Linked DNA regions of Homo sapiens. The protein of the gene in region 2 interacts with the protein of the main gene of each other region in a biochemical or structural test. Each region holds a gene or a part of one and is shown on either strand. Other genes may lie near its edges. The genes, in order: DDX39A and SARNP.

Region 1 (3,914 bases), on a different chromosome or scaffold from region 2:
TTAGGAGATATACCTAATGCAAATGACGAGTTAACGGGTCCAGCACACCAACATGGCACATGTATACATATGTAACAAACCTGCACGTTGTGCACATGTACCCTAAAACTTAAAAAAACTTAAAAAACACATAGCCCAAGGGGCACCTTCTATGTAGCAAAGGCTAAAAAATAAATAAGTAGAAATTAAAAAAAGAAAAAAATTAGCCCGGTGTGGTGGCATGGGCCTGTAGTCCCAGCTACTTGGGAGGCTGTGCCGGGAGGATCGCTTGAGCCAGGAGGTCGAGGCTGCCAGTGATGGCGCCATGGCATTCCAGCCTGGGTGACAGAGGGAGACCCTTTCTCAAGAAAAATAAATTTAAAAAAAGAAATTGGGGCCCAGCGTGGTGGCTCATGCCTGTAATCCCAGCACTTTGGGAGGCGAAGCGGGCGGATCACTTGAAGTCGGGAATTAGAGACAAGCCTGGGCAACATGGTGAAACCCCGTCTCTACTACAAATACAAAAATTAGCCGGATGTGCTTGCTTGAACCCGGAAGACGGAGGCTGCAGTGAGCCGAGATAGTGTCACTGCACTCCAGCCTGGGCGACAGAGCAAGGCTCTGTCTCAAAAAAAAAAAAAAAAAAAAAAAAAGAGAGAGAGAGATAAATAAATTGGGGTGAACCGAATCTGCTAAGATAAAATTTTCGAGAAACCGGGCTGGACAGGATCTAAAGCTCAAAACTGATTAGATCAGGAAAGGATCCGGCGGGGTTTTCCCCGCCCAAAGTGGGTGGCCATGACCGCTAAGGCGCCAGGAGCGCATGAACTTGAAAGGTGACAGCGGGGAACTCACAACCCAGACACGCCACGTGTACCCAGTTACCCTCAAGTGTCCCCAGGCAGGCTTTCCACCCCGGAGTTTATTCCCACCTGGGGACTCCTATTTCCAAAAGAAAATCTTTTTTTCATTCTGTTTTTTTTGAGGCAGAATCTCGCTCTGTCACCCAGGCTGGAGTGCAGTGTCGCGATCTCGGCTCACTGTAACCTCCACCTCCCGGGTTCAAGCGATTCTCGTGCCTCAGCCTCCCGAGTAGCTGGGACCACAGGCGCTCGCCACCACGCTCGGCTGATTTTTTTTTGTATTTTGAGTAGAGACGAGGTTTCACCATGTTGGCCAGGCTGGTCTCGAACTCCTGACCTCAAGTGATCCGCCCTCCTTGGTCTCTCCCAAAGTACTGAGATTACAAGAGCCACCGCGCCCGGCCTTCCAAAATAAAGTCTTATTTGCTCTAAATCTCAGAATCCCGAATCCCGTAAAAAGTAGACCAAGAAGAAGGTAGACTGGGAAAGGGATCAAGTCCCTCGGACCCAAAGAAACCCCTGACAACTGAAAGCTCCAACTTCTCCCACCCAGGCCCCAGACCCCGGCGTCACCCCCTCGTCCCTCTCCAAATGGCCCCAGGCCGCCGCGGGGTCTATTCGGACGAACTGACAGACTCCAAGTGGGGCTCGGAGCGCCGTAGGCCATGACAGCCCCTCCGAGAAGCGGGCCCCGAGCCCCGAGCACCGCGCGCCAACGGCTGGCCCACCCCTAGCGCATGCGCCCCGGTGCCCAACGGCCAACACACAGCGCTCTGACACACCAACCGCCCCGCCCCCACCGTCTCGCGACCCTTTCTCCCCCTCCCCTTAGATCCCAACGTCTCCCCTCGTCCTCTCGCTCTCAGTTCAGACGTCCCCACACCGCGGCCCCGCGCCCGGGATCCGCTGCTCACCTGGCTCCCCGTTCTTCTCCGCGCGCTGCTAAGAGACACTTCCAACTTCGGTTTTCCGCCGGGCGCTCAGACACGAGTTGCTGCGCTTCCTGCCTCTTGCGTCGGGCTGCTGCTCTGCTGACTGGGCCGCTGCCTTTTCATTCAAGAGAGGCCGAAGCGGTGATTGGGTCCTGTGGAAGGGACCGGGAGATTATTGGCGGAGACGGGAAGAAAGAGGGCGTGCCTTACGCCTCGCGTTTATTGGTCAATCTAAAAGTAGGCGCGCCCCAGTGAGCCGACAGACTGGCTCCGACAGCGCGCGGTCTCGTGATCTGGGTGTGGTGCTCGGTGGGAGCCGCCATGTTTAGTACTGATAACTGAAGACCGGATGATTGCGTTTTGGCGTGTGCCCCACCTTTTCGAAGAGTGGCGTCTGCGCTGGGCGCTGAAACCAGAACTGTCCCAGTTGCTATCAATCTGCGGCCTGGGGGTCCTCCACAGTGTAGGCTCTGAAAAGAATAGGGAGCTTGGAATGACTCAAATGGACAGAACATTTTGCAGTATTTGGATTTCTATCGCTCCACGATAGTTTTGTCTCCTTGATTTTCACGTTAGTAGAAGCATGCAATAGGTTGTCTTTTGTGTCTGACTTTTGCTCAACAAAGCTGTTTTTTTGAGACGGAGTCTGGCTCTGTCACCTAGGCTGGAGTGCAGTGGCGCGATCTCTGCTCACCACAACCTCCGCCTCTCGGGTTCAAGCGATTCTCCTGCCTCAGCCTCCTGAGTAGCTGGGACTGCTGGCGCCCGCCACCACACCTGGCTAATTTTCATATTTTTAGTAGAGAGGGGTTTCGCCATGTTGGCCAGGCTGGTCTCGAACTCCTGGCCTCATGTGATCTGCCCATCTCCGCCTCCCAAAGTGCTGGGATTACATGAGCCACCCTGCCTGGCCGCAGCAAAGTGTTTTTGAGAGTTGTCCATGTTGTGGGGATATCAACAGCTCGTTATTTTTTACTGCTGAGTGGTATTTCATTGTGTGGCTATACTATAATGTAGCCAATATAGTTTCACTCACCTGTTCTTGGCCAATTGATTGTTTCCGGTCTTTGGCCACTGTTAATAGAGCTTGTACTGTAAGAGTATTTTGGGGAAGATAAATTTTCATTTCTTTTAAATACTTAGGAGTGGCATGGTGGCATGGTCACTAAGCTTTATTAGATCCTGGCAGATTTATTTTCCTATCATCCTTCCTCCCTCTTTCCCTCCACTTTCTTCTTTCTTTCTTCAGGGTGTCACTCTTGTTACCTATCATGCCCAGCTAATTTTTAAAAATTTGGTAAAGGTGGGGTTTTGCAGGCCGAGCGTGGTGGCTGACACCTGTAATCCCAGCACTTTGGGAGGCCGAGGTGGGTGGATTACCTGAGGTCAGGAGTTTGAGACCATCCTGGCCAACATGGTGAAACTCCGTCTCTACTAAAAATAGAAAAATTAGCCGGGCGTGTTGGCGGGCGCCTGTAATCCCAGCTACTCGGGAAGCTGAGGCAGGAGAATGGCGTGAACCCGGGAGGCGGAGCTTGCAGTGAGCCGAGATCGCGCCACTGCACTCCAGCCTCGGCAACAGAGCGAGACTCCGTCTCAAAAAAAAAAAAAGAAAAGAAAAGAAAAAGAAAATGCCAAGTAAAGAAAGGATCAGCGGGCACCAGGGCTCCTGCCTATAATCCCAGCACTTTGGGAGACCAAGGAGGGCGGTTCACTTGAGGTCAGGAGTTTGAGACCAGCCTGACAACATGGAGAAACCCCGTCTGTACTAAAAATGCAAAATTAGCCGGGCGTGGTGGCGCATGCCTGTAATCCCAGCTACTCGGGAGGGTGAGGCAGGAGAATCGCTTGAACCTGGGAGGTGGAGGTTGCAGTGAGCCGAGTTCGCACCATTGCACTCCAGACTGGGCAACAAGAGTGATCACCTAAGGCCAGGAGTTCAAGACCAGCCTAGGCAACATAGTGAGACCTCATCTCTACAAAAAATAAAATAAAATAAAATAAAAATTAGCCAAGCATGGTGGTTGATACCTGTACTCCCAGCTACTCGGGAGGCTGAGGCAGGAGGACTGTTCGAGCCCAGGAGTTTGAGGCTTCAGTGAGCTATGATTGCACCACTGCACTCCAGCCTGGGTGAAAG
Region 2 (3,914 bases):
AGCGAGACTCCATCCCAAAAAAAAAAAAAGAAATCATCTTTTTCATGTTATGTCAACATATAGTTTGTAAATTCTTTGAAGGCAGAGATGTTTTAGACCACCTATAACATATATGATGGGAACTCAAAATCCTTACAAGGAACCTAAGTGGTTGGTATTACAATTAGGCTTAAAGAAATTCAATAACTTGCTTAAATATCACACAGCTTGGCCAGGTGTGGTGGCTCATGCCTGTAATCCCAGCACTTTGGGAGGCTGAGGTGGGAGGATTGCTCAAAGCCAGGAGTTTGAGGCCAGCCCTGGGCAACACGGGTAGACTCTGTCTCTACAGAAAATTAAAAAATTAATACACAGTTCAGGTGTGGTGGTGTGCCCCTGTAGTCCCACCTACTGGGTGGGAGCAGGGGCTGAGGTGGATCACTTGAGTCCAGAAGACTGAAGCTGCAGTGACCCCTGATTGTGCCACTACACTCCAGCCTGGGAGAAAAAGCGAGACACTGTCTCAAAAAACAAACAAACAAACAAACAAACAAACAAACAAACCACAGCTTGTAAATAGTAGACCAATATGCCAGCTCAAGTGTCTCTGATTTATGCTCAATATTAACTGCCAAAGTCTTGGCACTTCTTTCTTTCACTCTCTCCTCCTCAGCCTCCTTGCTAGCTCTTCTTCCACTCAAACCTGTAAATATTCACTAAGATTCCTTCTTTGGGCGTCTTGTCATTCCACATATATCAAAGGCTAATTCACTTCCCGATTTCAATCAGCGGCAAAGTCTATCAGCATTATCTTTAAAATATATCCAAAATCAAACCCTTCTCACCACGGCAAATGCTACTACTCTAGTCTTTCTTTCATACAGATTATTGTCAAAATTCTTCAGCCCTTGCCTCACTATAGTTTATTCTCAACAAAGTAACAGAGTGATCTTTTGAAAATTTAAGTCAGAACATGTCACTCCTCTAGTCAAACATCATCCATTGGTTTCGTATCTCACTAAGGGTAAAAGGCTGAATCCTATCACCTAAAAGGCCCTGCAGCTTTGCCCTCCCCTACCATTACCTTATTACCATTGCTCACTCTGATAAGCCAAACTGGTCTTGTGCTATTCCTCTAACACTTTGCACATAGCTCATTCCTTCACGTCCTTCAACTCTTTTTGTAAACATCTCCTTGTTAATGACTTCCCCAGTCACTCTATTTAAAATTACAATACCCTTCCCATTGTACTCCCTATTCCTTTCTCCTATTTTTCTCTATGTGCCTTATCAATCACTATTTGACATACCATAAATTTTACTTTTTATTTTGCCTTCCCTCAGTAAAATACAAGCTCTATGAGAGCAAGGATTTTGTCTCTGTTGTTCACTGCTGTATCTTTGGCACCCACAGTAACTGGGACATGGCAGGTGCTCCATATTTTCTGAATAAATCCCAAGTCTTCATCATCAGCTTTCAGCTCTTGAGTGAAAGACCCACATTTCCAACTGACTACCTGACATGTCCAAGTGGATGTCCCACAGACACCTAAGCCTCAAAATGAACTTACCTCTTCTGTGCAAAACTGGCTTCTCCTCCTCCCAACCCAGACTAAAGGTATCACTACCCAAACCCTGGAGTCATCTTTCATTTTTCCCATATCTAACTGATCTATAAATACTTGAAATTCTACTACATCCTAAATGTCTTTCAAATTCATTCCCATTCTTTTGAAGTCTTGACATGCTTATTCACTCAACAAATCGTTATTGAGCACCTACTGTATTATCAAGTATTATCTTGGATACAGGGAAATAATCATGAGCAAAACATAAGAGTCCTTCCCATTCCGAGCTTACAATCTTGCAGAGAACAAACCAATCAATGATCAGATAGCGTTTAGCTGATTTTTTTTTTTTGAGACGGAGTCTCACTCTGTTGCCCAGGCTGGAGTGCAATGGCGCGATCTCGGCTCCTGCAACCTCCGCCTCCTGGGTTCAAGTGATTCTCCTGTCTCAGCCTCCCGAGTAGCTGGGATTACAAGTGCGCGCCACCAGGCCCAGCTACTTTTGGTATTTTTAGTAGAGATGGGGTTTCACCATATTGGTCAGGCTGGTCTCAAACTCCTGACCTCGTGATCTGCCCACCTTGGCCTCCCAAAGTGCTGGGATTACAGGCATGAGCCACCGTGCCCGGCATGTTTAGCTGATTTTTTAAGAACACACAGGGTCTTATGAAATTATATAAAAAGTGGCCTGACCATGTTTGTGGATAGAACATAGAAAGCTTCCTTGGGTAAATAATATTTGAGTGAAACACCTGAAAGGGGTGTAGTAATTAATTAGATAAACGTGTTAGGGAGGAAGGGCAGCCGGAGTACTACAGCCGAAAGAAAACTCCAATTGCAGCATATGTGAAGGTTCTAGGTTGAGGTAAGAGGGAGAAGCAGTGTGCAATGATTAGAACATGAATTTTGGACACAGGCTGCCTGGAATTTTTTTTTTTTTTTTTTTTTTGAGACGGAGTTTCACTTTTGTTGCCCAGGCTGGAGTGCAATGGTGCCATATCGGCTCACCGCAACCTCCACCTACGCGGTTCAAGTGATTCTCCTGCCTCAGCCCCCCGAGTAGCTGGGATTACAGGCATGTGCCATCACGCCCAGCTAATTTTGTATTTTTAATAGTGACGGGGTTTCTCCATGTTGGTCAGGCTGGTCTCGAACTCTCGACCTCAGGTGATCCGCCTGCCTCGGCCTCCCAAAGTACTGGGATTACAAGCGTGAGCCACTGCACCCAGCCTGCTTGGATTTAATATACAACATTTTAGCTGTGCAACCTAAGGCAAGTTACTCAGTTACTCTCTCTGAGCTATGGTTTTTCTTATTTTCAAATGAGGATAATACAGGTATTTACCTTACAGGGTTATTATGAGAATTAAATCAGTTAGTGTATGTAAATGGCTTCAAACAGTGCTTTGCCACATAACAAATGCTAAGTGTTGGCAATTGATGAAGCATTCTGAAGAAATTAAATAAAATAAGGCCACAGTAGTTGAAGAGTTAGTAACTATGCTGGAGAGACGGGCAGGGATATAATTTAAAGGTTTTAAGCAGGGGAATGACTCCTATAATAAATATCTAAGTGGTGAAATCGCTCCCCCTACAAATCCCATCCGCCAAGAGAATACAAGCTGATCACATCAAGCTCCTCCTTTCAAACTTCCAAAGGCTCCCAGCCCTACTTCTTACATGACAAAGGCCAGAAGTCCTTACATAACTTAGAAAGCCCTTTTCAATATCACTCTGATTTACCTTTATAGTTTACCTATTTTCCTTTCCAAACTATCTTCAACTACCAATATATTTCCTCACTTCACTTTTCAATACAAATGTCTCACTATTCTCAACACTCTGACACTACTATCACTTTCTCCTCTCCTCTGCAATAGTTCCTTTTCTAATGTTTGACTGGATATCTGATACTGTTACAGTTCAAGCCATTTTCATCCACAGTTCAATCTCTCTTTCCAAATGTGTTAGTATGGGCCAGGAGTGGTGGCTCATGCCTATAATCCCAGCACTTTGGGAGGCCAAGGCAAGAGGATCACCTGAGGTCAGTCAAGTCCAGCCGGACCAATAACATGGTGAAACCCCATCTCTACTAAAAATACAAAAATTAGCCAGGCATGGTGGCACGTGCCTGTAATCCCAGCTACTCGGGAAGCTGAGGCACGGGAATTGCTTGAACCTGGAAGGCGGAGGTTGCAGCGAGCCGAGATCTTGCCACTGCACTCCAACCTGGGCGACAGAGCGAGACTCCATCTCAATTTAAAAAAAAAAAAAAAAGAATGACTGCATTTCTACAAAATCCTCAGAAATTTGCTGTTGATATGACATTACATATCAACTCAGATACATACTATGTTTCCTTCCTGC

What was found.
Region 1: the proteins of SARNP (region 2) and DDX39A form a complex in vitro, tested with the Homo sapiens proteins (2 studies listed by BioGRID).

Annotation. Positions count from the first base shown.
Region 1 is NC_000019.10:14,417,514-14,421,427, forward strand, and holds the start of DDX39A (ATP-dependent RNA helicase DDX39A), read right to left. Parts: upstream 1,829-3,914; 5' UTR 1,757-1,828; intron 1,540-1,756; exon of another isoform or gene 1,416-1,539; intron 1-1,415. UniProt on the Homo sapiens protein: Helicase that plays an essential role in mRNA export and is involved in multiple steps in RNA metabolism including alternative splicing. Regulates nuclear mRNA export to the cytoplasm through association with ECD.
Region 2 is NC_000012.12:55,811,066-55,814,979, forward strand, and holds part of SARNP (SAP domain-containing ribonucleoprotein), read right to left. Parts: intron 1-3,914. UniProt on the Homo sapiens protein: Binds both single-stranded and double-stranded DNA with higher affinity for the single-stranded form. Specifically binds to scaffold/matrix attachment region DNA. Also binds single-stranded RNA. Enhances RNA unwinding activity of DDX39A.